Homo sapiens: one gene and its partners. The protein of the gene in region 1 purifies or fractionates together with the protein of each later gene. This does not show direct contact. Each region holds a gene or a part of one and is shown in the gene's direction. Other genes may lie near its edges. The genes, in order: HECTD1, SMC2, ZNF622 and URGCP.

Evidence for each region.
Region 2: the proteins of HECTD1 (region 1) and SMC2 purify together in Homo sapiens (affinity purification with mass spectrometry; 3 studies listed by BioGRID, with this or other methods). This does not show direct contact.
Region 3: the proteins of HECTD1 (region 1) and ZNF622 purify together in Homo sapiens (affinity purification with mass spectrometry; 4 studies listed by BioGRID, with this or other methods). This does not show direct contact.
Region 4: the proteins of HECTD1 (region 1) and URGCP purify together in Homo sapiens (affinity purification with mass spectrometry; 4 studies listed by BioGRID and IntAct, with this or other methods). This does not show direct contact.

Annotation. Positions count from the first base shown.
Region 1 is NC_000014.9:31,106,775-31,113,808, reverse strand, and holds part of HECTD1 (E3 ubiquitin-protein ligase HECTD1), read left to right. Parts: intron 1-324; coding exon 325-532; intron 533-619; coding exon 620-705; intron 706-1,265; coding exon 1,266-1,393; intron 1,394-4,210; coding exon 4,211-4,412; intron 4,413-6,104; coding exon 6,105-6,242; intron 6,243-6,555; coding exon 6,556-7,034. UniProt on the Homo sapiens protein: E3 ubiquitin-protein ligase which accepts ubiquitin from an E2 ubiquitin-conjugating enzyme in the form of a thioester and then directly transfers the ubiquitin to targeted substrates.
Region 2 is NC_000009.12:104,111,292-104,118,325, forward strand, and holds part of SMC2 (structural maintenance of chromosomes protein 2), read left to right. Parts: intron 1-289; coding exon 290-523; intron 524-2,024; coding exon 2,025-2,184; intron 2,185-2,672; coding exon 2,673-2,790; intron 2,791-3,399; coding exon 3,400-3,538; intron 3,539-4,908; coding exon 4,909-5,028; intron 5,029-6,879; coding exon 6,880-7,034. UniProt on the Homo sapiens protein: Central component of the condensin complex, a complex required for conversion of interphase chromatin into mitotic-like condense chromosomes.
Region 3 is NC_000005.10:16,455,801-16,462,800, reverse strand, and holds part of ZNF622 (cytoplasmic 60S subunit biogenesis factor ZNF622), read left to right. Parts: intron 1-4,171; coding exon 4,172-4,284; intron 4,285-7,000. UniProt on the Homo sapiens protein: Pre-60S-associated cytoplasmic factor involved in the cytoplasmic maturation of the 60S subunit.
Region 4 is NC_000007.14:43,903,573-43,911,124, reverse strand, and holds the start of URGCP (up-regulator of cell proliferation), read left to right. Parts: upstream 1-4,528; 5' UTR 4,529-4,549; coding exon 4,550-4,563; intron 4,564-7,552. Other genes in the region: URGCP-MRPS24 (uncharacterized protein LOC100534592), read left to right, coding at 4,550-4,563. UniProt on the Homo sapiens protein: May be involved in cell cycle progression through the regulation of cyclin D1 expression. May participate in the development of hepatocellular carcinoma (HCC) by promoting hepatocellular growth and survival.

The DNA of each region.
Region 1 (7,034 bases):
GCTTCTTAAGGAACAGCAGTTCATTGAGACATAATTTTAAAAATGAGGTTGAATTAACACTGTTAATGCACAAATTCTAAAATTTCAAATATGGCTGGTAGCATTGGATCTGAATGCAGACTTTGACCATGGCTTAGAGTGGTTATATTTTATTTGGGAATTTTAATGGTTTAGAATGCCTTGATTTATGTCTTGTGTTATGTTTTTATTTAAAAAGAAGGCACTTTAAAAAATTCCAACCCTTTCATAGTGGTATTGATACAATGATACACTGTTTTTCTTGAAAATGTGATTAATGGCCAGTTTTTCTAATTGTTTCTATAGGATTTTTGTGAGCATGGAACAAAGTCTGGGTTAAACCAGGGGGCCATTTCTACTCTTCAAAGTAGTGATATTCTTAATTTAACAAAAGAACAACCTCAGGCCAAAGCAGGCAATGGACAGAACTCTTGTGGAGTAGAAGATGTCCTTCAGCTTCTGCGTATTCTATATATAGTTGCAAGTGACCCTTATTCAAGAATATCCCAGGAAGGTCTGTAAGAAGCCTTGTTTCATTTCTATAGCAGTTTTAAAGCAAGTCAGTTTATATTTTTATTAATTTTATTAATTAATTTTATAGATGGTGATGAACAGCCTCAGTTTACTTTTCCACCAGATGAATTCACTAGCAAAAAAATTACAACAAAAATATTACAGCAGATTGAGGTAATAAAATCAGACAGCTGAACTCTTCATTCTATTACTGTTGGACTTTTCCTAATATTCCCTTTACTTTCTTTTCTACCTCTCACCATCTTTCCCTTCCCTCTGATTGGTAATTTGAGCTATATGGTCCTTTGCATTTATTTCCTAATTACAGGTTTATAATTGACTTGGTAATTTTTAATAATTGCCTTATAGGGTCAGGTGTGGTGGCTCATGCCTGTAATTCCAGCATTTTGGGGGCCAAGGTGGGTGTATCGTTAGAGGCTAGGAGTTCGAGACCAGCCTGGCCAATATGGCGAAACCCAGTCTCTACTAAAAATACAAAAATTAGCTGGGCACGGTGGCACATGCCTATAATCCCAGCTACTTGGGTGGCTAGGGCAGGAGAATCGCTTGAACCCAGGAGGCAGAGGCTGCAGTGAGCCGAGATCGTACCACTGCACACCAGCCTGGGCAACAGAGTGAGACTCTGTCTCAAAAAAAAAAATGAACGAATGAATGAATGCATGCATGCATGAATGCCTTATAGCACTAAGACATTATTATTTGTTAATTCGCAGGAACCATTGGCACTGGCAAGTGGGGCTCTGCCAGACTGGTGTGAACAATTAACCAGCAAATGTCCTTTTCTAATACCATTTGAAACTAGACAGCTTTATTTCACATGTACAGCATTTGGCGCCTCAAGGTAAGAAGCCTTTTTTTTATGTTTTTAGAATAAGTATGCTTTTATGTTATGTAAGTTGAAAATGTACAACTATACTGTCAAGACTGATAGAGGGAATATATTATCTTGTATTCTTATAAAGAATAGTCAGCATTGCCTTTTGGCCTGAACTACCAATCTTCTAGTAATTCGCCAAAATGACTAATCCAAAGGAAAGGAGGAGAGATACCCGATAGATGTTTTCTAGGTCTTTTAGAAAACATGGAGTTGTTCCTTTGGCCACGTATATGCAAATCTAAAAGAGAGGTGATACTGTAGACATTAAGGGAATGGGTACTGTTCAAAAAGGAATGCCCCACAAGTGTTACCGTGGCTAAACTGGAAGAGTCTACAGTGTTACCCAGCAGGCTGTTGGCATTGCTGTTTTTTTGTTTTTGTTTTTGTTTTTGTTTTTTTGAGACAGAGTCTCGCTCTGTCGCCCAGGCAGGAGTGCAGTGGTGTGATCTCGGCTCACTGCAACCTCCGCCTCCCAGGTTCAAGCGATTCTCCTGCCTCAGCCCCACTGAGTGGCTGGGATTACAGGTGCACGCCACCACGCGTGGCTAATGGCATTGTTGTAAACAAACAAGGGCAAGATTCTTACCAAGAGAATTAATGTGCATATTGAGCACATTAAGCACTCTAAGAGCCGAGATAGCTTCCTGAAACACATGAAGGAAAATGATCAGAAAAAGAAGGAAGCCAAAGAGAAAGGTACCTGCATTTAGCTGAAGTGCCAGCCTGTTCCACCCAGAGAAGCGCGCTGTGTGAAAACCAAGGGAAAGAAGTCTGAGCTGCTGGAACCTCTTCTCTGTGAATTCATGCATAATAGTGTTTAAAAAAAATAGCCAGGCGCGGTGGCTCACACCTGTAATCCCAGCACTTTGGGAGGCCGAGGCGGGCAGATCATGAGGTTAGGAGATCGAGACCATCCTGGCTAACGTGGTGAAACCCCATCTCTACTAAAAATACAAAAAGTTAGCTGTGTGTGGTGGTGGGCACCTGTAGTCTCAGCTACTTGGGAGGCTGAGGCAGGAGAATGGCGTGAACCTGGGAAGTGGAGCTTGCAGTGAGTAGAGATTGTGCCACTGCACTCCAGCCTGGGCGACAGAGCGAGACTCCATCTCAAAAAAATAAAAAATAAAGATAAAAATAAAAGACCTCTGGACTGTAAAAATGTTTCTCTTCCTTGAGTAGAAGTGTGGTGTCCTCTCCCCCAAAGAAATACTTCAGGCAAATTTTAATTTTGTCCTAAGCCTAATTGTGTAATGTCTTTACTATTCAAATTTAATGTATTTCTTGCTGAAAGATGTGAGATGGCTTATTGTGCAACAAATTACTCAATTGGTTAGAAAATGGTCAGATATTATTTACGAAATATTTGTACTACTTTGAAGATAGTCCCTCTAATCATGGAAGAAGTAATTTACCAAAAAAAAAAAAGCATTTAAAAAGTTTCTGTTTTCAGGCTGGGCACGGTGGCCCATGCCTATAATTCCAGCACTTTGGGAGGCCAAGGCAGACACATCACTCGAGGCCAGGAGTTCGAGACCAGCCTGGCCAATGTGGCAAAACCCCATCTCTACAAAAAAACACAAAAATTAGCTGGGCGTAATTCCAGCTTTTTAGGAGGCTGAGGCATAAGAATTTGCTTGAACCCGGGAGGCAGAGGTTGCAGTGAGCTGAGATTGCACCACTGCACTCCAGCCTGGGCAACAGAGCAAGACTCATTGTAGGTGCTCAATAAATATTTTGTTGAATGATTGTTTACCTTAAGTACTCTTCCAAAATAGTTGTAAAAAAAAAGTTATAATTTAAACTGTTTGTTTTCTTCCCTGATAGTTACATTTTTGTACCATTTAATGCCATTTACAAAGCATTTATATACATAGAACTATAGGCATGTTGTGATAACTGGCATTGATTATAATTTGTTTTATAAATGAGGAAATTGATTCTGCACGTACTTAGCTGATTTGCCTAAGATCATGAGAAAATAGTAGCACACATGAGAGTAGAACCTTCAGCTTCTTATTCCTAATTGTCGGTTCTTCCTCCCACCATAAATGGATTGTTATTAAAAAAAAGAAAATGTGGCCGGGTGTGGCGGCTCATGCCTGTAATCATAGCACTTTGGGAGGCTGAGGCGGGTGGATCAGTTAAGGCCAGAAATTCAAGACCAGCCTGGGCAACATGGCAGAACCCCCATCTCTACTAAAAATACAAAAATTAGCTGGGCGTGGTGGCACACACCTGTAATCCCAGCTACTGGGGAGGCTGAGGCAGGAGAATCACTTGAACCCGGGATAGGGAGGTTGCAGTGGGCCGAGATAATGCCACTGTACTCCAGCCTGGGTGACAGAACAAGACTCCATCTCAAAAAAAAAAAAGAAAAATTGTTTTAAAATTATAATTACCGTTTTGATGGCGGCTTTCAGTTTGAAAGATAGCTTAATCATTTCTAAATTTCTCTGATAGGAAACATTTTTCCTTTTTTTGAATGATGTTGGGGCTTGGACAACAGATTATTATTTTTATTGAACTGCTAAAATAAGGAGGCAAAATATAGACCCAGTACTTTCTCAGTTTGCTTAAGGCAGATTATAATAAAAGGAGTTTCATATATTTTTACTTGTGACAGGAAGCAGTTTATGTAACAAAAAAAGATTACTGTGTTTTAAAAATCACCTGATAAAATACTATTTTTTAATTTCTTAAATCTTTGAATTCTGTTGCTGGTTTAGTAGTACATTCAGCTGTTAACGTATGCTGCAGCTCATAGATATTTTTCTATTTCAGAGCAATAGTATGGTTACAGAACCGACGTGAAGCCACTGTGGAGCGAACGAGAACCACAAGCAGTGTTAGGCGAGATGACCCTGGAGAGTTTCGAGTTGGTCGTCTCAAGCATGAAAGAGTAAAAGTTCCACGTGGCGAGTCACTGATGGAATGGGCTGAGAATGTCATGCAAATACATGCAGATCGGAAATCAGTTCTTGAGGTAATCTCATATAAAATTAGATTTAGGGAACAGGAATGACACTTAGGGAACCAGCCCAATGTGTATCTTCACTGCATTAAAAACTGTGGTAGGTAAACATGAAGAGGGGTTTTCCTGTTCTGTAGGCAGAAGCCTTCTCCTCTGGCAGAGCATCTTTTTCATAAGAGGATGTCAGTCCACCTCCTTAGGGGTTAGGTCTTGTGCCATTAATGAGCAACAAAGAAGATCTCCACTCTTGAGGTGGCAAAGTGCTTGTTCTGCTTGAGGGCTTCTACCCATTTCATAACAAAGTTGGACTAAAATAGTAGTACTCACAAGGGATTCTTTTTTACTTTTACATTAAACTGTGCTGTTTGATATTTTGGGAGCACCTGGTTTTGTAATATTGTTTCACTTGAATTGTGCTTGGTATTATATCACTGGTCTGTGTTGAGACATGTTATAGCAAATGGTAGTATGACATTTAATATATTTAGTTTAGAAATGTTACTGTGGACATTGTTGGTTTTATTTCATATACACAGTATTCCCTATATGAGGAAGAGTGGAAATACGTCTCCTGTCACAGGGGTGAATCCAACTGGTTTGTTTTTAACTTTTGGATCATAAACTAATTGCAAGAAATATGATACATCTCTAGAAGATGTCCAAGGCTTTACATCTTTCACTTTATATACAGACTTTCATTGTATTCCTCCTACCCTTATGTTCTTCTTCTTCTTTTTTTTTTTTTTTAATAGAGACAAGTTCTCACTATGTTTCCCAGGCTGGTCTCAAACTCCTGGGCTCAAGTGATCCACCCGTTTCGGCCTCCCAAAGTGCTGGGATTACAGGCTTGAGCCACCATGCCCAGTTGTTTACATTCTTCTAATATAGATAATCTTTTTTTTTAACCATATGCTGTAGTTTTTATTATACTTTATGCAATCACTTTAAGGGTTTTTGTCCATACTCTTCCTGTTGCAAAAATGATTTAAAGTGTCTTTAACTCAGAAATAAGCAGAAGAGGCGAGGCGCAGTGGCTCATGCCTGTAATCCCAGCACTTTGGGAGGCTGAGGTGGGTGGATCACCTGAGGTCAAGAGTTTGAGACCAGCCGGACCAACATAGTAAAACCCTGTCTCTACTGAAAATACAGAATTAGCCAGGCATGGTGGTGCATGCCGTAATCCCACCTACTTGGGAGGCCGAGGCAGGAAAATCGCCTGAACCCGGGAGGCAGAGGTTGCAGTGAGCTGAGATCGTGCCACTGCACTCCATCCTGGGCGACAAGAGTGAAACTGTCTCAAAAAATAAAAATTAAAAAGTGGAAGAGTCTAGGCTTTGGTGTCACACAGAGACACACAAAAGTCTGTTCACCATCATTTCTTCAAGCAAATGATTTAACCTCCTTATCTGAGATTTGGTTTCCTTTGGTGTAAAAAGGAAATAATTATTTTGCAGGGTTGTTGTGAGAAGTAAATGTATGAATGATGCTTGGCACAGTGCTTAAGCATGTAATAGTGTACAACAAGTGGACTCTTTAGGAAAATTAAAATAACACTTCTGTGCTGTTTATTATATATATACACTGCTATTTTGAAAAAAGGTACATTACTGGATCAGATATGATAAATTTTGACAAGAATTAGATTATTTTTAAAAACACCCCAAACTTTACGTTTAACCCACAATTTATTTGTTCATATTTTAGGTTGAATTTTTAGGAGAAGAAGGAACTGGCTTGGGACCCACATTAGAGTTTTATGCTCTGGTGGCAGCAGAATTCCAGAGAACTGACTTGGGAGCTTGGCTTTGTGATGATAATTTTCCAGATGATGAATCTCGTCACGTAAGAATATTTCTCATTTTGTGACTTGAGTTGTGACTCTGCTTTCAAAAGTGTTAAAAATAGGTTATGTGTTCAGAGCATAAGCCAGGTTTCTGACTCTACTTTTATTATTGAATAATCTTGATGCAATTAAAATAGTTCTAAAGCGATAAAATTTAGTCACCAAAAGCTATTTAATAAAATTATATACTTTTAGATAGCCAAATTCATGAAGATGTTTAATGTTTATGGATTTTTTTCTTAGATGATGATAGGCTTAGTTTCTATTAACTTTTGTTTAATTTTATTTGCATTTCACCCTCTAAAAAATTAGGTTGATCTTGGAGGTGGATTGAAACCTCCTGGATATTATGTGCAGAGGTCATGTGGACTGTTCACAGCACCATTTCCACAGGATAGTGATGAGCTTGAAAGGATCACGAAACTGTTTCATTTCCTTGGAATTTTCTTGGCCAAATGCATTCAAGACAATAGACTTGTGGACTTACCTATTTCTAAACCTTTTTTTAAACTTATGTGTATGGGTGACATTAAAAGCAATATGAGTAAACTGATTTATGAGTCACGAGGTGATAGAGACTTACACTGTACTGAAAGTCAGTCTGAAGCTTCTACAGAAGAAGGTCATGATTCACTCTCGGTAGGAAGCTTTGAAGAGGATTCAAAATCAGAATTTATTCTTGATCCCCCTAAACCAAAACCCCCAGCTTGGTTTAATGGAATTTTGACTTGGGAAGACTTTGAATTAGTAAACCCACACAGAGCCAGATTTTTAAAAGAAATTAAAGACCT
Region 2 (7,034 bases), on another chromosome or scaffold:
AGTCCCTTCAAGTGATTTGTTTAAATCTGCAATTATTATTTAGCCCAATGTCTCATGGATTTAATTTATAACATGGAATGAACCAGTAGTATAAGAGTTATATTTATTCTAAAAACTGAGAGTGAATTTCAAAATGATAATTCAGTATTTATAAAGTTATGATGGTTAAATTATTTTATTATGCTCACTCCAAATTGCTATGGAATTTTATTACATAAGGGTATGCGTATAAGAAAGTGGGTGTTTTTCCTGAAATATAATATTTTTCCATTTGAAACTCTTCCTAAAGGACTCAAAAACTTTAGCAGCAAAGGAAAAAGAGGTTAAAAAGATAACAGATGGACTGCATGCCCTTCAAGAAGCAAGTAATAAAGATGCTGAAGCTCTGGCAGCTGCACAGCAGCACTTCAATGCTGTTTCCGCTGGCCTGTCCAGTAATGAAGATGGAGCAGAAGCAACTCTTGCTGGTCAAATGATGGCCTGTAAAAATGATATAAGTAAAGCTCAGACAGAAGCCAAACAGGTAAATAGAGACATTAGCACTATGTGATTGCTTTTTTTTCCAAGAAGTTTCTTTTCATGTTATGCTTTGGCAATTGTTACATAATGTTGAAAATAATCAGTCTCAAGGAACTTGTTTGTTTACTTTATTCTGCAACTCTAATGCCTAATGCAGCGAAATTCAAATATGTTGATTGCTAAATATTGGTGATGTTAATTTGTGAAGATGCTGTACTACATAAATTATCTTAATTCGGTATGTAAGTGCAATAAATGCTTTGTTCTGTTTGCAGCATTGTGTGGAATTTTCGAGATTAATGCATTTATTCTTGTCTCTTTTTGGCTATTTTTATTTTTTATTGATAACATAATGTTGAAGTCTTAAGCTTTAACAGGAAAACAGGATTGTCCTCCCCATTGCTTTGCCTGCCATACCTAGTTCTTAAAACCTTGTTTCTCAAACTTTACATTTTTTTAGGAAGTATCTCTACCTCACATGTAGCCACATTCTAGTCTGCTCTCCCTACTCTGATTTCATAATCTTAAAAGTCTTGTCAGTCTATTATAATGTTTCTCAGATTTTACATAGTAGTGCAACTTACAGTCCTATGAACATAAGAATTTTGCTAGCAGAAAAAATACATGTACACAGGCACATCATTGTTTTGTTTTTAATGGAAGACACAGATTTTAAAACATGTACACAAATGTGTGTGATTATGCGTTAATCCTCAGGTTTTTCTCTTTATATATTTGCAACTTTTTCATTCAGGCATGACAGATGATAGTCACAAATTTATAAGAACTCTCAATAGTAGAAAAGCTTTAAAGTACTCTACTCTCAGTTTGTCTATTATTTTATAAGGGAACTGGGAAAAATACATCATTATACAGTTTTGGAGGATACCCCCATCTAAAACCCCATCTAGGTTTTAGAATACTAGTTCATAGTTTTAAGAAGCAGTGTTCAAGTGTATAAATTCTTGAAGGCCTGACACATGTAATTTAAATAGTTCTAGCATTTAATTATCAGACTCAGCATTTAAGTTTCTCTGTCAGTTTAGCTTCTTTTCCTGTATAATCTTACGTCTTATTGCTCAATTCAGTTTCTTTACTGTTATTAGATAGCACTCACAAATATATACACATACAAATATGAACAACTAAGCGGAAAGGAAAAGAACGAGAGTTGTGATTTCTAGCGTTCTTTTTTTAATTACCAGCTACTGACAGTTATTCGATATAATCCTTCAATTTGAATATGTCATATTTTATTAAAAATACGGACTTAAATTTCAAATTCTTTTACATATTAATCATATATTAGTTTATACTTTGAGTAGTTTTTTGAGGAGAAAATACTGGGAAATGACTAATTTGTTGAAATACTAATCCAAGAGACCAAACAATTAAACTTTGAAGGTTAAGGTCTCTTAGTAAAACCAATCTGAATCTTCGGCCATTTAATTACTAGCACTGTCTGCCTCATACATCCTATGGTCTGTTGCATTTTTCTGCCACAGGCTCAGATGAAGTTGAAGCATGCTCAACAGGAATTAAAGAATAAACAAGCTGAAGTTAAGAAGATGGATAGTGGCTACAGGAAGGATCAAGAAGCTCTAGAAGCTGTAAAAAGACTTAAAGAAAAACTTGAAGCTGAAATGAAAAAGCTAAATTATGAAGGTTTGCCTTTAAAAACATGATAATCAGATCATGAGGAGGTAGTGATTTTTGATAAAAAGCTAATTTAAATAAAGAACGCAAGCAAGTAGGAAACATTTCTTAGCCTATTAACAAGCATTAGTATAAGAAGTGTTGTAAATATCGTCAAAAAATACCTAATTATAAAACAACTCTTGAATTTTTGAGAACTCAGTATTGAGAATTTCCTGCTTCAATCATTTGAAAGCTCAAAAATGTCATTTGTGTATTTCTACATTAGGCATTCAGTTTGTATGTTATTTTTTGGAATGAAAATTGTGTTATTTGCCGTTGGAAATAATGTCTGTTTGACAGTGGATAGAAATAGGAAGGTTCAGCATGCTTTTTTAATACTTACAGAAATTTGTATTTTTTGCATGCTTTGGAAATAGTGGTTGCTAATATTTTCCTTAAAACAGTAGAGTGAGCTTTTAAAACTTGGTTTTAATTTATTATGATTTATCCTTCAGAAAATAAAGAGGAAAGCCTTTTGGAAAAGCGCAGGCAGCTGTCTCGTGATATTGGTAGATTGAAAGAAACATATGAAGCTCTATTAGCCAGATTTCCCAATCTTCGATTTGCATACAAGTAAGAGACTTAAGCCTTGAATTTTAACATAGTAATAATCAAGACATTTTTATTTAAGCTGGAAGCAGTGTGAAAATTTTGTCGAAACCAAGATTTTTGTATGAAACTTGTTGTAAGCTGCTTTTCTTTCATTGGTATTTTTCCTTTAAACATTTGTTGAAATGTTTTAAATGTTGGCAGGGAAATTCTTGTGAAATTTAATGGCTAATGATGCCACTAATCTTAAAATGAGGGAAATTTAATCTCAGTTCAAAATGTCTTCAGAGTTACTGTATCATTAATGTTAAATATCCACATTTACATCTTATAATTTGTTTTGCTATGTGGGTTTTTTATGGAATATTTACAGTAATCATATGTATTATAGGGATTAGAACATCAGAGTTGTTCTTACTACATTGAAACATACTGAAAGATCTATTGTGATTTAAAAACAACAGCTGGCTAGTCATTTGGGACATTTTAAAATTTTTGGTTTGTTAAAACCATTTTGCTGATTCTACTTTCATTTCACTTTAATGTGTTGTCCAAAAGAGCTCCTGATGAGTAAAGTATAACTTTTTCTACTTTATTATCTAAGATTAATTTTTGTCAACTTTTGTATTTCAGGGATCCAGAGAAGAACTGGAATAGAAATTGTGTGAAAGGACTTGTGGCTTCTCTGATTAGTGTGAAAGACACTTCTGCAACCACAGCTTTAGAATTAGTGGCTGGAGAACGACTCTACAATGTTGTAGTAGACACAGAAGTAAGTTGATTTTAATTTTAAAAAATTTAAAATTTGGTTAGCTTGAAAAGTCATGTGCTGCTAAAAGAATTAAATACTTTGATGTTTTAAGGCTCTCCCCTAAGGTGACTTATTTATAGGGTAAAACTATTTGGTTCATAACTTTTTGATAACTATTCCAAAGGAGGTCTCATGCTTACTCAGAAACTCAGAATGCATATTACCAATCTTAAACTTTTGGGATCTCTTTGCTGTATAAGTTGAATTTAATTTGTAAAATAATCTGGGAATAAATGACCTGTTTTTGATGTCAGTCTTCCCATCAAGGTAACATTGAATTTATTTACATTTCTTCAGTTCTCACTTATTATCCTTCTGTAGAATGCTCATATTCTTTCCTGTAAATGCTACGTAGTCATTGTCAAATTTACTTCCTTGTTTTTTTTTTAATTTATTTTATATATATATTTAAAATGTACAAGAAGCCTGGGTATGGTGGCTCACACCTGTAATCCCAGCACTTTGGGAGGCTGAGGTGGGCAGATCATTTGAGCCCAGGAGCTCGAGACCAGCCTCAGCAACGTGGCAAAACCCCATCTCTACTGAAAATACAAAAGTTACCCAGGCGTAGTGGCGTGCGCCTGGAGTCCTAGCGACTCTGGAGGCTGAGGCACAAGAATTGCTTGAACTTGGGAAGTGGAGGTTGCGGTAAGCTGCGGTAAGCTGAGATTGCACCACTGCGCTCCTGCCTGGGCAACAGAGGAAGACTGTATCTCAAAAAAAAAAAGAAAAAAACAAACGTACAAGATGTTTTGATACATATACATAGTGAAATGATTATTGTAGTCAGACATATTAACATAGCCATTCACCTTCCATAGTTACCTTTTTTGTGTGTGACAGCACCTAAAATTTACTCTTAGCAAATTTTCAGTATATAGTATTAATTATAGTCCTCATGCTATACATTACATCTCTGAATAGGTAGATTTATTTATCCTACCCAACTGCAAATATGTACCCTTTGACCTATGACCTACTTCTACCCATTTTCTTTCACTCCTCATCCCTGATAACCACTATCCTACTCTTTTTATTTGTTCAGCTTTTTTTTTTAAAAGATTCCATGTACAAGTGAGGTCATACAGTTTTTTATTTTTTCTTCGTCTGATTATGTCACTTAGCATCATGTCCTCTGGGTTTATTCATGTTGTCCCAAATGGCAGCATCTCCTTTTTCAAGTTCAAATGATGTTCCATTGCATATGTAATTATAACTTGATTGGGATAAATGGCACTAAACATTCATTTATTATAGACTACTAAACTTGCATTCTCTCAATTTTCTGTCATTTTTAACATGCGTTTTTTAAATTCAAATGTGTGTTGTAGGTTACTGGTAAAAAGCTACTAGAAAGGGGGGAACTGAAACGTCGATACACTATAATTCCACTCAATAAAATTTCAGCCAGATGTATTGCACCAGAAACTCTGAGAGTTGCTCAGAATCTTGTAAGTCTCATTTTGTCTTATTTATATGTTTAATCGTCATCTGTGGTTTTTTTAAGTTAGAAGACATTAATTTTGAGGGACATAATCATATGCAGAACCACAAAATTAAAATACAAAAAAATTGGGTTGGCTTGTGCAATTAGATGATAAGAGAATAGAGATGTTGGAAGACTTGAACTCCTTTTGATGCTTCACTTTGTGGTATTAGAATGTCCTTTTTAACCTTAAGTCACATGACTATCAATCAGGTGATGGTGAAAATTACACTCTTGATTCCTGAATGGTTAGAACTGAGCTTCTAGATACGTACCCCAAATTCTTCAAGTTTTTGTTTTTGTTTCTTTTTATGTCAGGCATACTAAAACTGCCCACAGTCACAGCCATTATGGAAGGCCTTCATTAGTATTGCAGTGATGCTTCTTTATTAGAGTTCTTCTAGATTGCTATTCAGCCTGTGCAGGTACATAGCAGGTGACCAGGATCCCATTCAACTGCTGACGTTGATCTAAAGTGACATGCTTGCTAGTAAGAAAATAGATTAGTACAAGGAAATACATTTAAAAGTTATTGTAGTTGTGTAATACTGTAAAAACATGAAGTCAGTCATAACATTCAGCTGTAATATCAGTTTTTTTATTGATCAGACATTCCAAGTACATCAGTTGAAAAGACATTTCTATGAAACTTAAAAATATACTTGTAACTAAGTGGATGTTGTTGTATCCTTAGTTACATTCAGAAGATTTCAATGCAAATGATTTCAAAATACAGTTGTGTTGATATGTATACTATCAGGAGAGGGAGGATGAGTGCTGAGTAATTGAAAGGTGATGTTTTTGGTTGGTACTTTCTTTACTTGAAAACTCACCATTAAGTCAAGAAGGCTCAGGAAGTTAATTCAGCCATACATCGAGTCCCAGCATTAGAAGGAAATTGGGATTTCAAGTAACAGCAAAAATACTTTGCCTCAAATCCTTTAGCCAAACCTATTTGATGGTAGCTGCCACATCAAAGAACAATACTGAACATGTGTTACATAGAGCTTCCTTCATTGTGACTGCCACTGCTGATACTAAGCTCTAAAAGAGATGCTTAGTTTTTCTTAAATGATGGGCAGAGGTAGCCTCTATAAACAAAGGCTGAGAAGAAGCATTGTGATCAAAATAGAGGACTGGGGATTTTTTAAATTACTTTTACTCTCAGTTATTGTGTTTTCATTTCTGTAACTGGCAGACGACTGCTCTAGCATGTTTCATTTGTATGAGAAAATATTTGTTGTGAAATCAAATTCCTGATTATTGAAACAACATTTTCATATAGTTGTGTTGATCTGGAAATTATAGGTTAAGCACTCCAAGTCCAACAACTGAAATTTTCCAAAATTCAAAACTATGACACCCAAAAAATGCTCATTGGAGTATTTTGGATTTAGAAAGTTCAACCACTGTAATACAAATATACCAAAATCTGAAAACAAACACTTCTGTTCTAAGCATTTAGGATAAAGGATACTCAATCTGTACTATAATTAAAGTTGTGTCCAGTCAACGTTGGTGAAGGACACTTAGAAACATGGTAATGGCTCCTTATTGATAGAAACTTTCATAATGCTCCATACTAGCTATTAATAAATATTTTACTTAGCAATAAATCTTTCAGTATTTAAACCTGCAGTTTTTTTTTCCTGAAACTTTGAGTTTTACATAGCTTTTTAGAAAATTCAGAAAGAGTTTTAATGCTAGGTAAGTATTATTTAAGTTTCTATTACAGCAGTTTTTACTGGTTTATAAAATCATATCTGAAAGGAAAAGTAGTAGTATGTACTGTGGCATATCTGTTGTTGTCCCACAGGTTGGCCCTGACAACGTTCATGTGGCTCTTTCCTTGGTTGAATATAAACCAGAACTTCAGAAAGCAATGGAGTTTGTCTTTGGAACAACATTTGTTTGTGACAATATGGATAATGCCAAAAAAGTGGCCTTTGATAAGAGGATAATGACTAGAAC
Region 3 (7,000 bases), on another chromosome or scaffold:
TCACATATTGGGTTCCTGGAGAGTCCTTGCATCACCAGCTGTCTCCTGAAGGAGTTGAGACAGTTGCTAAACCAGGCCCAAACCAGGCATCTGATGGTGAGATTACCCCATTGGTGGTTCACCCCTAACTAGAATCTTTTTTTTTCTCTGAGAAAGATTTTTGCTGTCACCCAGGCTGGAGGACAGTGGCACAATCATGGCCTACTGCAGCCTCAGCTTCCCTGAGCTCAGATGATCCTCCCACCACAGCCTCCCCAGCAGCTAGTGTGCACCAATATGCCCTGCTAATTTTTGTACTTTTTGTAGAGATGGGGTTTCGCCATGTTACCCAGGCTGGTCTTGAACTCCTAGACCCAAGTGATCCACCCACCTCAGTCTCCCAAAGTGCTGGGATTACAGGTGTGAGATACCATGCCCGGCCCTAACTAGAATCTTGAATTTTTTTGTATGTCATTTAGCAAATGTATGTTAAGTACTTGTGAACAACTAGTTGTCAAAATTCCTGTGAGCTAGCACAGGAGATAAGCAGATGTGTATAATTACCATGCCAGGCATGCATAGACCAAGTGATACCATGTTCAGAAAAGTCTCAGTCTTTTAAGTCTTCCTTTTGCATTTTCTCCCTGATTTCTCATTTTGCAGCTGGAGACTTGCAGTTGGTGGACATGACTGGGTGGAGGTAGAGGGGAGGATTAGAGGCTGTGGCAGTAGAGAAGACAATGAATGTCTGCTGGTGGTGGGAAGCATCCTCTTTCAGTATTTATCCCTCTCAAGTTTCCTTTTAGACAGCAGTGTTTATGACCTTTTGACTGATGTTGTAATCAGAGTGGTCAAAGCAAATACCATGGATAGTTAAGCAGCTGCCATCAGCAGTAGGCTTGGAATGCCCAGCACTCAGTCTCTCATCCTGTGGTTATATTCAGAATCCTACCCAGTCTCATAGATTTCAATATCTTCTGTAGGCCCGTGACCCCCACATTTATATCTCTAGTATAGCCTTCCCCTCAGCTGTAAACTGAAGATATCCAGCTGCCTCCTTGATATTTCTACTTGTGTCCAAAAGGAATCATTAACTTAACCTGTCCAAAATCAACTCCTGCTATGCATCCTAGTCTGCTCTCTGTAAGTAAATGGCATCTCTGTCCTTCTAGTTACTTAAGCCAAATGCCATGCAGTCTTCCTTTATTCTTCTATTTTCTTTCATGCTTACATTAGAATCGATCACCAAATTCTGCTTTATCTGCTTTTGCACTATCTATCTTCAGAGGCTGACTGCTTCTCACTACTTCTATGGCTACTACCCAGGTCCAGGGCACCATCATCTTTCGCCTGACTTCCTACAGTAGCCTCCTGCTGCCTGGTCTCCATATTTACATCCTTACTACCCACTATGTTCTATTCTCAAAACTGTAACTAGGGGGATCCTTTTAAAACATTAAGTGAGGTCAAACTCTGCTCAGATTCTTTCAAAGACTACCTATCTTACTCAAAGTAAAAGCCAAAGTATAATGGCCTGCAAGGCCCTGCACATAGTGTGGAGCATCTGTGGTTCTGTGGTTTTGTATTAGTTGCTCTCTGGATTCCTAACTATTCCTCTAATGCATCAAGTGTGTTTCTCAAGACCTTTGCATTTGCTGCTGTATTTGTTTATAGTATTCGCTTAGATATTCACTTGACTTGTCCCTCACTTCTTGCAGGCCTTGACATAAATTTCACCTTCTCAGTGTGGCCTTTTTTGACCACCTTCCATAAAATAACACCTACCCAATCCTTTTTATCCTGTTTTATTTTTCCTTATATCCCCTACTGCCATTGTGTGTATTGTATATTATTTATTGTCTCCTCCTTCTAGAATCTAAGCTTCAAGCCCTAGCCTTTTGTTGTTGTTACTCTTGTTCTTTACTGGGTGTTGCTTAAACCGTTAGTTTGAATTAAAATATGTAACTGATGGAAACGGTTCTCCCTTAGTCCAGATGATGTATTTTTCATTCCATTTACAGTTTTATTCTGTTGGTGCCTAGAAATGAGAAATTATATGAACTTTTCTTCCTAAAAATGAATATTAAATGATTTGTTTGTCTTAAAAAAATAAAAGTCAGCCAAGTGTGGTGGCATGAGCCTGTAGTACCAGCTGCTTAGGAGGCTGAGGTAAGAGGATCACCAGAGGCCAGGAGTTTCAGGCCAGCCTAGGTGACACAGTGAGACCCTGTCTCTAGGGGAAAAAAAGGAAAAAAAAAAAAGTTGATAATGCTTAATAAAGAAAACTTGGAAAATAGAAAGCCTTTACATACAAAGCTAGTGTTTATGGAGTGCTTACCTGCCAGACACTGTTCTAATAAGCATTTTATGTGGATTCACTCAGCTAAAAAATGACAAATTACCTAAATTTCACTCCCCTTCACAAGGTAACTTGTTTACTTATTTTGGACCTGAAACTTTTTATTGAAGAATAAACTTACAGAAAAGTGCATATATGTATACAGCTGGCCCTCTGTAGTCATAGATTCTCCATCTGTGCATCCAAACTAAAGTATTCGAAAAAAATTTTGTCCATACTGAACATGCACAGACTTATTTTTCTTGTCATTATTCCCTAAACGTTTAGTACTGTGTAACAACTATTTACATAGCATTTACAATGTATTAGGTATTAATAAGTAATATAGAGATGATTTAAAGTATGCAATGATTTAGGTTATATGCAAATGTTATACCATTTTATATCAGGGACTGGAACATCTGCAAATTTTAGTATCCTAGGGAGGTCCTGGAAGCAATCCCCCATGGATACCAAGGGATGACCGTACTTGTGATATCATGATTCAGTGTAGTGAAATTTTAAATATAACTAGCACCTAGATCAAGAAACAGCATGTTAATAATACCCTGACATTTCCCTTGTGTGTCCTTCCAGAAACTACCCCTCCTTTCTCCAAGAGTAACTACTATTCTGACTTATAGCTGCATAGATTGGTTTTGCCTGTTTTTATACTTTATATAAATGGAATCACAAAGAATGTACTCTTGGGTGTGGCTTCTTTTGCTCAACTTTATGTTTGGGAGACCCATTCATACTATTTTATATAGCTGTGGAGAGTTCTTACTGTTACAGAGTGTTCTGTTCAGTGCTCCACAACATCTAGTCTACTGTTGATACACATTTGAGTGGTTTCTAATTTGGGGCTATTACAAACAATGCTGCCACATCATTCTAATGTGTCTTTGGCAAATGTTTATAGGTTATCTGTTGTGTGTATATGTAGGAGTTGGGCCAGAGGATATACATATGTTCCATTTTAGAAAATACTGTCAAATTGGTTTCCAAAGTGGTTTTCTATACTCCCACTTGTAGTGAGGGAGAGTTTTTCATCTTAGCAACTTTGGTGGGTGTGTAGTGGCTTTAATTTGCATCTCCCTGATGATGATTACTGCAATCAAGAGGCTTTTTGCATATTCATTGGCCATTTGGATATCTTTTTGTGAGGTATCTGATCAAGCATTTTGTCTATTTTCTTATTAGGTTGTCTGGTTTACTGTTAATAATTTAATGTACACTTTTCCAATTATTTTTTCATGTGTATCTATGAATAGCCTTTGTCAACATTTTTAGGAATATAGAGATTCTTGTGGAACTGCACTGTCCAATATAGTAATTACTGGGTATACCCATATAGCTATTTAAATAAATTGGAAGTTTAATTAAAAATTTAAACATTCAGTTCTTCAGTCAGACTACCTGCATTTCAAAGTTCTGTGCTGGAAAGCTCATGTGATTGCAGTTACTGTATCAGACACAAAGACATATTGATAGAACGTTTTCTGTCATCACAGAGTTCTGTTGGACAGCACTGTTCTATAATTTGTTTTTATAGTGGTTAAATTGAGTATAGCTGCATGTCCAGCTGTACATTCTCCTTCTTCTCTGTTAGACAGCCTTTCTAGGGAAAAACAAATAGAATTCTGTTATATGTCATTTGCTCATTTCTACTACAGACAAAATGCTAACGAGTTGTTTTCTCCCAAAACCTTTTAGCTGGTAGTTCCTACAGCTGCTTCCTCCCCTCTCCCTTTTAGGTAGCTTAGGAAGTTTGCCACATTTGCAAATGAGTTTATGTCTTTTAGTTCAATTTGAGATATTAGTCTATTTATTAGTGCAATTTCTCTGTTATAGGAGTAGCTATCCAGATCACAAGGAAGGGGAGGACCCCAATAAGGCTGAGGAGTTGCCCTCAGAAAAGAACTTGGAATATGATGATGAAACCATGGAATTGATTCTGCCTTCTGGTAAGTGCATTTGTCAAAAATAAATAGCTTAATGCCAGTGGGATTGAGGGAGAAGCATATCTCCATCAATTACTTTCCATACTGAGGGAAATAGACCATAAGCTTAAAGTATATGTTTGGGTTCTCATGTACGGTGTAAACCCTGAAGGTTGCTGCTCAGCTCTAAGTTGCCTGTTTTGTTTAAATTTGATCAGTGTTTCTGTTCATTTCTGGGTTATGATTCAGAATGTTTGATCAGGCATTTCTTTTTTTTTTTTTTTTAGATGTAGACCTTTTCTATTCTGTTCTTTATTTATTTATCTTTTTTGGTCCTGTCTAGGTTTCTCCTGTTAATTGTAACCTTACTGTTATTCTTTGAACTGATTCCTGTTTCCTTTTGTTGCTCAGACTTCCAAATGGTAGTTTGGTGTGGGTGTATCTGACTCATGGTGGAAATTTAGCCACCATGAGGTATGAAAAGATGAAGAATAACCATGAATGTGAGAAGCATACATGGTTGTTTATTGTGTAGGAAGAAAGAATCGTGATTAACTGATAAGAATAGGAGAAGCTACAGAAGACATGTTTGAGAAATGAAAGGGGATGGAAAGGTAGAGATGATAATAAGATCTTAATGTCTGGTATTTACTGAGCAGTTAGCACATTCAGGCAGATGTATTTGTCTTTATAGGCCAACGTGAGTTAGATTCCAGCATCTTCATTTTACATATGAAGCTTAGAGAGGCTGAGTAACTTACCAGGATCACATGCCTAATCAGCAAAGCCTTTTTCCAATATCTGTATACTGCCTTGGGAGATTTGCAGTAACGGTGCAGGCAGGAACAACACACCCTGCTGGTGGAGAGGTCCGCAATGAAGCAGCCTTGTCTTATGGCTTTCCACATAGAATGTCACTGCTTAGGTACAGATGACTATCTTTAGCTCAGAATGATAACCCTGTAAGGCCAAGAGCAGCTTTAGAGTGTGGCAATAGGAGGAAAGGTCAGGCAGAACCTATTTTGAAGATGACAGTTCTTTCTACAGTGATAAGAAGGTTATAATGCAATATATTATTATGGCCTATCTAATACACAGTGGTAAAACCTAAATCCCAGAGAACCTTTTCTAGTCTTTCTCTGGTGACAGTACCCATATAGAACATCAGAAATATGTTTAATAACTTATTTTCCAGAACTGTATGTTTGACTTGTTGTCTCCTTAGCTTCTGCTTCTTAAACGGTAGAATCAGATAACCATAGACCTTAAGTAAATTGAATAAGACAATCCTAGTACAGCAGTGTCTGCCGTGTAGTAGGATCACTATAGTGTTTGCTTCATTTTGCATCTACTTTAGCACAATATATTACAAACCTTAGCATAACGTGAGCATATCTATTCAAGAAATCTAGGATGTTTCAGAGAAGTTTTCATCTAGACTTTAAATTTTTGAAACTTATAAAAAATAAAGAATCCTCAGCTTTGTCCTGGGTGACTGAGTTTTTTAAGGTATCTAAAAAGATACCCATTTTGACCGCCAAAGCCAAGCCCATTTTTGGCTTTGGCTAGCCTTAGAAAGATCTTAGAGAGATCTTCCTCTCCCACATCCAGATGGCTTAGTAACTCCTAAATGTCTTTTGAGTATTTTTGAGTATTTTTTTTTTTGTATTCATTTATCTGTGTCACCATTATACCCTCCTGTCTGGTCATCTCTAATCTGGTTTCCACATGACCACCAAAACATTCTTTCTAAAACACCAGTAGATTTTCTTTACCCTCTGTAGTTCCTCCACTGGGAGCCATTGCCTTTAGGGTAACTTTGAGTTTCTCTCGCTTCTGGTCCCTCAGGTGTGTAGTGCTATTCCTCTACCCCACCCACATACAGTTCTCTTCCTCTGGGTGTTTACATGTGTGGTGCCTCTTTTATTCCTACTTTTCTTGTAAGATTCAACTTATTTAGATTCAACCCTCTGGGAAGGCTTCCTGAACTCATCTTCTGTCCATTTACTGGGTAACAAGAGTCTCTCCCCTGCTGCTGGGACACTAAATCTAGTTACTCAGATTGGACTTCAGTAAAATCAAGCAGGCTATCTCAAAGCTAATGACAAAAAGTATCCACTAGAGGGCACTGTGAGCATTTATTTTGAAGATTGTGGTCTGGCAAGGTTTTTTTGGGTTTCCTTCGTTGCTCTTCAGCTCTTTTGGAGTAAGTTGGTATGAAAGGCCCATTCAATTGGATGTCAGAAATTGTAAGGCCGTTTGTTAAGAAGGAGTGGACATTAGCCTGGTGTGATGGTGTGTGCCTATAGTCTCAGCTAAGGCAGGAGGATCACTTGAGCCCAGGAAGTCAAGAGTCACAAGGCTGCAGTGAGTCATGATCACGCCACTGCACTCCAGCCTGGGTGATAGAACAATATGCTGTCTCCTAAAAACAAAAAAAGAAAAAAAGGAGTGGATGGTCTATAAGTGGCTACTGCTGTGTCAAAAGCTAGATGGACAGGTCGCATGCTTCACCATGACTTAGACATAACCAATCCCTTATTTATTGGGCAGTCACCCTGTGTTCTAGAAAATACTTTTCCTTGATGAGGGCCTTCAAGTGTAGCTGTCCTTAGCCCATCATACGTGGTGCTAATATCAGGTGGTCACTGTCATTGGCACAGGGTAGGGGGAGCTCTGAATGCTATTTTCAGTTCCTTCTTACCAGCTGTTGGAAACCTTGGCATTGAGTAATGAAGCC
Region 4 (7,552 bases), on another chromosome or scaffold:
CTGGCTGGTCCAGTTTATTTATAGTGCTGTTCAGGCTGTCTATTTTCTTATGGTTCTCCTGTCTGATTGTACTATTATTGAAAGTGGGGTATTGAAGTTTCCAACTTTTATTGTAGAAGTCTGTATTTTTTCTCTTTAATTCTGTCAATGTTAGCTTCATATTTTTTGGGGATCTTTTGTTTGGTGCATACATGTTTATCATTGTTATGTCTTCTTAGTGAATTGACTCTTATCAATATGTAATGTTCTTTTTATTTATTTATTTTTATGAGAAAGAGTCTTGCTGTGTCACCCAGGCTGGAGTGCAGTGGTGAAATCTTGGCTCACTGTGGCTTCAGCCTCCCAGGCTCAAGAGATCCTACCATCTCAGCCTCCTGAGTAGCTGGGACTACAGGTATGCATTACCACACCTGGCTAATTGTGTTTATTATTTGTAAAGACAAGGTCTTACTATGTTTCCCAGGCTGATCTCAAACTCCTGGGCTCAAGTGATCCTCCCACCTCAGCCTCTAAAAGTGCTGGGATTAAAGGTGTGAGCCACCATGTCAGGACTTTTTGAAAAAAAATTTTAGTGTAAATTTTTAATAAAAAGATGGGACCAGGCATGGTGGCTCACATCTGTAATACCAGCACTATGGGAGGCTGAGGCAGGTTATTGCTTCAGCCCAGAAGTTTGAGACCAGCCTGGACAACATGGGGAAATCCTGTCTCTACAAAAAAAAAAAAAAAAAAAAAAAAAAAATTAGCCAGACATGGTGGCACATGCCTGTAGTCCCAGCTACTTAGGAGTTTGAGATGGGAGAATCACTTTGAGCTGGGAAGTTGAGGCTGCAGTGGGCCATGACTGCATCACTGCACTTCAGCCTGGGCAACAGAGTGAGACCGTGTCTCATAAATAAATGAATAAACAAATAAATAGATCAGTTCTCACCATGTTGCCCAGGCTGGTCTTGAACTCCTGGCCTCAAGTGATCTTTCTGCCTTGGCCTCCCAAAGTGCTGAGATTATAGGTGTGAGCCACAATGCCCAGCCTACAATTTTCTTATATGTCTCTTGTAACAGGGTGTCTTTTATTTTTTTTGAGATAGAGTTTGGCTCTTGTTGCCCAGGCTGGAGTGCAATGGCACGATCTTGGCTCACCACAACCTCTGCCTCCCGGGTTCAAGCAATTCTCCTGCCTCAGCTTCCCGAGTAGTTGGGATTACAGGCATGTGCCACCACGCCCGGCTAATTTTGTATTTTTAGTAGAGAACAGGGTTTCTCCATGTTGGCCAGGCTGGTCTTGAACTCCTGGCCTCAAGTGATCCACCCATCTCAGCCTCCCAAAGTGCTGGGATTACAGGCGTGAGGCACAGCACTGGCCAATTTTATTTATTATTATTATTTTTTAAATTATTTTTTATTTTTATTTTTGAGATAGTCTGTCACCCAGGCTAGAGTGCAGTGGCTGCAGTCACTGCAGCCTCCACCTCCTGGGTTCAAGCAATTCTCCTGCCTCAGCCTCCTTAGTAGCTGGGACTACAGGCACACGCCACCACACCCAGCTAATTTTTGTATTTTTAGTAGAGATGGAGTTTCACCATGTTGGCCAGGCTGTCTCAAACTTCTGACCTCAAGTGATCCACCCGCCTCGGCCTCCCAAAGTGCTGGGATTACAGGCATGAGCCACCGTACCTGGCCTAAAATACTGGTTTTTAACCTATGAAGTTGGCAATGATTTTGAAAAATTGTAAAAGTTACACAGTGTTTTGGAAAACTAGGACTATCAGGTGATTGTGCTGGGAAGGCAATCTGTATATATGTGTGTATATGTTGTGTATGTGTATATTTGTGTGTCTGTATATATGTGTGTAGGTATATGTATACATATGTGTGTATGTGTATTATGTATTTAAGTATATGTATATTAGTGTGTTTGTGTATGTGTGTAGGTATACACATACACATACACAGAGTATATATGTTTCAGAAGAGCCTTAAAATACTGATATCCTATTGATCTAGAAATTCAACTCTTCAAAATTTGGCATAAGGAAATAATCATTGATGTTTATGGGATGTTTTGGCTATAAGGATATTTATTACTCACATTCCTTATAATAATGAAATACTGGTAGCAATATTTATGTCCAACAGTAGGGGTTGGTTAAACATGATGGTCTAACCATATAGTGGGATGCTAAAATTCATGTTAAGTGTACGGGCCACGGGAAAGTTTCTCCTTGCCCTCTGAAGATTTACTGAAAAATCAACTCACAAAAAGCAGATTAATTGAAGAAAAGGCATACAAATTTTATGAATGTGTGCACAGGGAGAATTACAGAATGATTTCCCACCACCCAACAAGGTTCAGAAGCTTGTAGACCATCTTGGCAAAACAACTTACAGGAGGGGAGAAAGAGGAATTCTTTCAAGGGGCAATAAAGGATTACTAGGGAGAAGGAATGGATCAGGGCACAGAGATTAACTTGTACGCTATCCTATGAAAGGGTCTTTTCAGGTGTGGTTACATTCTTGGTCTTACAGGGAGGGCAAGAAAAACAGTTGTTCTCCTTGGAGGGTCTGGACTTTAAGCAGATAAAGACATTTTCTGTTTTGGGAGAAACCAGTGGGGAGGGAGATCAGAGAGACCTTGAGACTTCTTCAGTTCAGCTTGTTAAAGTGCCATATTTTGGGGTTATTGGTTTCTGAACCAGATTTTATGTCAGTAAACATGTATTCCTTATGTTTAAAAGAATGCTTATTTAGGCCAGGCATGGTGGCTCACGCCTGTAACCCCAGCACTTTGGGAGGCTGAGGCAGGCAGATCACCTGAGGTTGGGAGTTTGAGACCAGCCTGACCAACATGGGGAAACCCTGTCTCTACTAAAAATAGAAGAATTAGCCAGGTGTGGTAGTGGGCGCCTGTAGTCCCAGCTACTGGGAGGCTGAGGCAGAATTGCTTGAACCCGGGAAGTGGAGGTTGCAGTGAGCCAAGATCTCGCCATTGCACTCTGGCCTGGGTGACAGGGCAAGACCCTGTCTCAAACAAACAAAGAAAAAATTCTTTTAGTTTGATCTCCTTCATTTCATTACTCCCTTGAATCAGGCATTTAGGATTTAGGATTTCCCATTCCTCAAACTCTTCCTAACTCTGGTCCTCCTGGATTTGTCCTTATTTTGGGTGTCACAAGTTCGCGTGGCTTTACCTATCAGCTCCCATTTACAGAGCATTAATTATCTTCTGAACTCAAGGTAGCAGTTATGAATTTCTTTACCGAAGAGGACAAGGAGGCTCAGAAACATTGACTGGATTCTCCCAGGAGGAAAAGAGACCATGCATCACGCAATGTTTACTAACATTTAAAAATAGTTACAAATGTTTACAAATATTAATTCATTTAATCTTCACAGAGAGGAAGGGACTTATTTTTAGCCTTATTTTTCAAATAAGGAACTGTGGCCCTGGAAAGGTTCTATCTTGCAGGGGCTCCTGGGGCTGGTAATTGGTGGAGCCCAGATTCCAACACAGGTATTCTGGCTTCAGAGCTAAGGTTTTAATCACTGCTTTGCTGTCTTGTATTCTTAATAGTAGTAAACATTTTTAAATAGTGGTTGTTAATGATATTTTACTTTTAACTTTAATTTTATTTTTAAAAATGAAACGGGCGGGGCGGGCAGGGGGTCATCTCAATATGTTGCCCAGGCTGATCTCAAACTCCTGGGCTCAATCGATCCTCCTGCCTCGGCCTCCCAAAGTGGTGGGATTACAGACGTGAGCCACTGCGTTCGGCCAGTGATATTTAATATAATACTAAAAATGTTATCAACAATGGTTTACATTGTCCAGAGCTTTTTATTAAGCATTTTCACTTAGATCATTTTTGGAAACTCATTTTGCAGAGAGAAGAACTGAAGCTGAAAAATCTACCTGCCTAAGGACTCATAACTTGTAAGAATAGTTGTGAAACCTCACTGGAGGAACTGCAGATTCATTATTTTTCTTAATAACACACTATAAAGAATAATAAAAGTGCTTCGCATTGCCTAGAGCTTCACAAGGCCACTTTATACACATTTTACAATGGGTACCGTCTCAGAGAGGCCAGCAACTCGTCCAACACAGCACTGCAAGTAAGAAGTAGGAAAGTTATTGTTTTGCTTAATAATAAGGCCTTACGCTTCAGGGCTAAAGAAAAGCCTTTTCTTACAGAAATTAAACTCCAATTACAGAAAGGTGTGAAGTTCAGTAAGGCCCTGGGGCAGGTTATCCTACAGCTTTTGGCACCGCAGGCACCGCCCGGCGAGTTCCGGCCTCCAGGCACCTGGGCAGGTGGGCGTTGGGCGGGCTGCGGGCTGACCTGGGCCGCCCCGCCCCCACCCCGCCCCAGCTGTCCCCGGGCTGCTCCGAGAGGACCCCGGGCCCACCTTACCCCACCTCACCCCACCTCCACCCCTGGAGCGCGTCCCGGAGCGGGCGGGCGGCCGGCGGGCCAGGCCCCTCCCCGGCGCCGAGCCGCGGCCGCGCGGAGGAAGCGAAGGAGGCGGGAGCGGAGACCTCGCTGCGCTCATGGCGTCGCCCGGGTGAGTGCCGCCTCGCAGGCCCTGCGCCCCCGCGGCTGCCGGCAGGAACGGGAGCGGGACCCGGAGCGGCTCTGGCCTGCGGGCTCTGGTCTGGGATGCGGCCCGGACCCGGCCAGGGGCGCCCCCGCCCGCCAGGCCCACCAGGCCCACGGCCCGCTCGCGCCGACCTTGGGCGGACCGGCCGCGCGGGCGTGGGGGGCGGGCGGGGGCGCCGGCGGAGGACAGCGGTCCCCCGGGATGCGGGGGTCCGGGTACGCGGGCCTAGGGGATCCGGGGAGGGCGCGAGGCCCGGAGGTGCCCGGGGCGCGGCGGGAGCGAGGGCCCGGCGAGCGGCTGGGGAACCGGGGTGCGGGTCCTCGCCGCGGCCCGGGGCAACCCGCGGAGGCCTGGAAATGCTTCGCTCCGGCGCCTGGTATCGATGTTCCTGGGTTTTAAACTTGCTCGCGTTGGGAGTGGACGCTTGTTTGCCGCGTCGTTGAGACGTACCCAGAATGTCAGGATCCGGGCAGATGCAGACCCTTTGCTGACAGCCGGAGAGCCGCTCCGGGATCTCCTTGGTCGGGGCCATTGCCTACCGGCCTGCCTTGGGGTGGCTGCGCTTATTTTGATATTACCTCTTTTCAACTTTTTTGATTTAAATGTTATTCCTTTTAGGAAATGATGGCGACACATATAGTTTGTAATTTTTGAGAAAAAATTCTCACTTGGCAAACTAAAACCTCAGTAATTCATTATTTTTTTGTTTTTTGTTTTGATAATTTTACTAGTACTGAAATTTGGGAATGACAGTCCAACACTTTCATTTTACAAAGAAAGAAATTAGGCTCAAGGTCATCGCTTTAGTTGTTAAAATTCTTCTTTGACTGTTACCCATCATTCAGAGGGTCTTGGATCTAGTGGCTGTGATAGCCATTCAGAACAGTTCCCAAAGAGCTTTACAGGTGTGTGTTCAGTGGTAGGGGTGGGGAGGGGACGGTGCTAAGGGGCCGGGATCATGGATTTCGTGCCTCCTCCAGATGAGGCCTGAGCCATGCCCTGGGGTGATTTGGCTCAGTACAGTGGGCCTGAATGAAGCAAGCTGAATTTGAACCCCGCCTGCTGTCTTTCTAGGCTTTGGGGCAGTGGTCATTTCCGGGACCAGGCCTTTTCATTGCCAGCTGACTACCCAGCACTTTGAGCTCATGAATAGAGTAAGCAGGGAACCATCCCTGGGAAGGCCAGGCTGATTGACCTAGGGGTTCAAGGTCCTGCAGCATTCCTTTCCCCCTTGTCAGGAAAGGGTGGGCAGAGCCTCCTGGAGGCAATGTTGAGGGTGGCTGAACCTGTGTGGGGCTGCCCTGAACGAAGCTTTAAAAAAAAAAAAAATAGTGGTGCATTTGGTGCCCAAGTACACTACTTTGTAGACATGGGTCAGAGGTGGACTTAATGCTTCACTGGTGTTTCTGTGAGCCAGTAGGGCTTAAACTGTGTCCCTGTAGTTGGTGACATTTGGTATTTGCGGTTGTGATTATTTGTGTGACCCCCATGAGTCTGCAGTTTGTAATCTATAATTTTCTGCGGGATATCCATTGCAAAAGCTGAGGTCTCAAAACCTTTAGTATACAAGTCATGCACCACAAAATGACAGCGGAGGACCACGTTATATGACAGTGGTCCCATGCACAAATACTTATCATTGTGTTAGTTGCCTACAGTATTCATACTGTAACATGCTGTACAGGTTTGTAGCCTAAGAGCAACAGGCTGTACCATATTGCCTAGGTGCATAGTACACCTTACGATGTAGGTTTGTGTAAGTTTGCCCTATGATGCTCACACAAGGACCAAATTGCCAAATGACACATTTCTCAGAATGTATCCCTGTTGTTAAGTGACTCATGACTGTTGCTTTATTTCATTTTGTGGGGTAAGCTATGCACATATTATGTACACTGGCAGACATAGCTCCTAAGTGTCCACTTCTACAGGCTTCCCTGGTAGATCAGAGTCTAGCTAGGAAGACAGTGCTTTCTGAGACCCTCAGGGCTATCTCAGTCAGCCAGCTAGCAAACATTTAAGCTACTGCACTAGGTATCTTAGGGAGCAAGTCCACAGATAAAGGGCAGGGATGGGAAGGGACTGGTGATCTGGACTGGGCTAGTCATAGAGGAGTCTCCAAATTGATGTTTTTATTAAGTGACAATCTCCATGAGTTGGGAAGGAAAGAAGAAACGCTGACCATTTTTGAGGACCTTATGAATATGCCAGGCATTGTGCTAAATAAAGGAAATGGCAATCAAAGGATATGAAGGCATCAAAGGAAAAGATGTGTTTGAGAAATGCCCCATGGCCCAGTGTGTTTGGAGCTAAGTGGAGACAAGTTCAGAGGATGAGACTGGGACCAGATGATGGGACCTGGTCCCGTTTGTGGACTCACTGCCCACCACTCGCTGAAGGTAAATGAAACTATTTGCATTGGTGGAGCTCTCAGAGAATCAATGTGACAGCAGTATAGAGACGGCAGAGAGGGCAGAAGACAGGGAGCAGCTCATGCTGCCATCTCCCCTCTTTCGAACAGGCCTCACTCAACAGCTCATCTCTTGTCTTTGCCCCTTGCTTGGCTGTCTCACAACTGCCCAGATCTTCCTTGTCTGCCAGCTCCTCTGCCTGCTCTTTCACTGTTGGGGTTTCCTTGGGCTCTATAATCCATCTCCGCTAGTCCCAACACATGTTCTCTGCATGGTCACATCTGTTTTAGTGGCTTTAACTGTTGTCTGAATCAGAGGTTCTTAACTTAGGCTCCATGATTCATGGATGGGCTTCTGGGGGTCCCTTTGTTCTCTGAAATTGTATGCAGCATTGGGAGTAGTGTGTAATTTTCCTGGGCACAAGGTCTGTAGCTTTCAACAGATTTTCAAAGGGGCTCTTATCCTTAACAATGTTACAACTATTCATCCTAAATTTCCAGATTTTCATTTCCAACTACACTAGATACAGCTCCTCAAGTTTC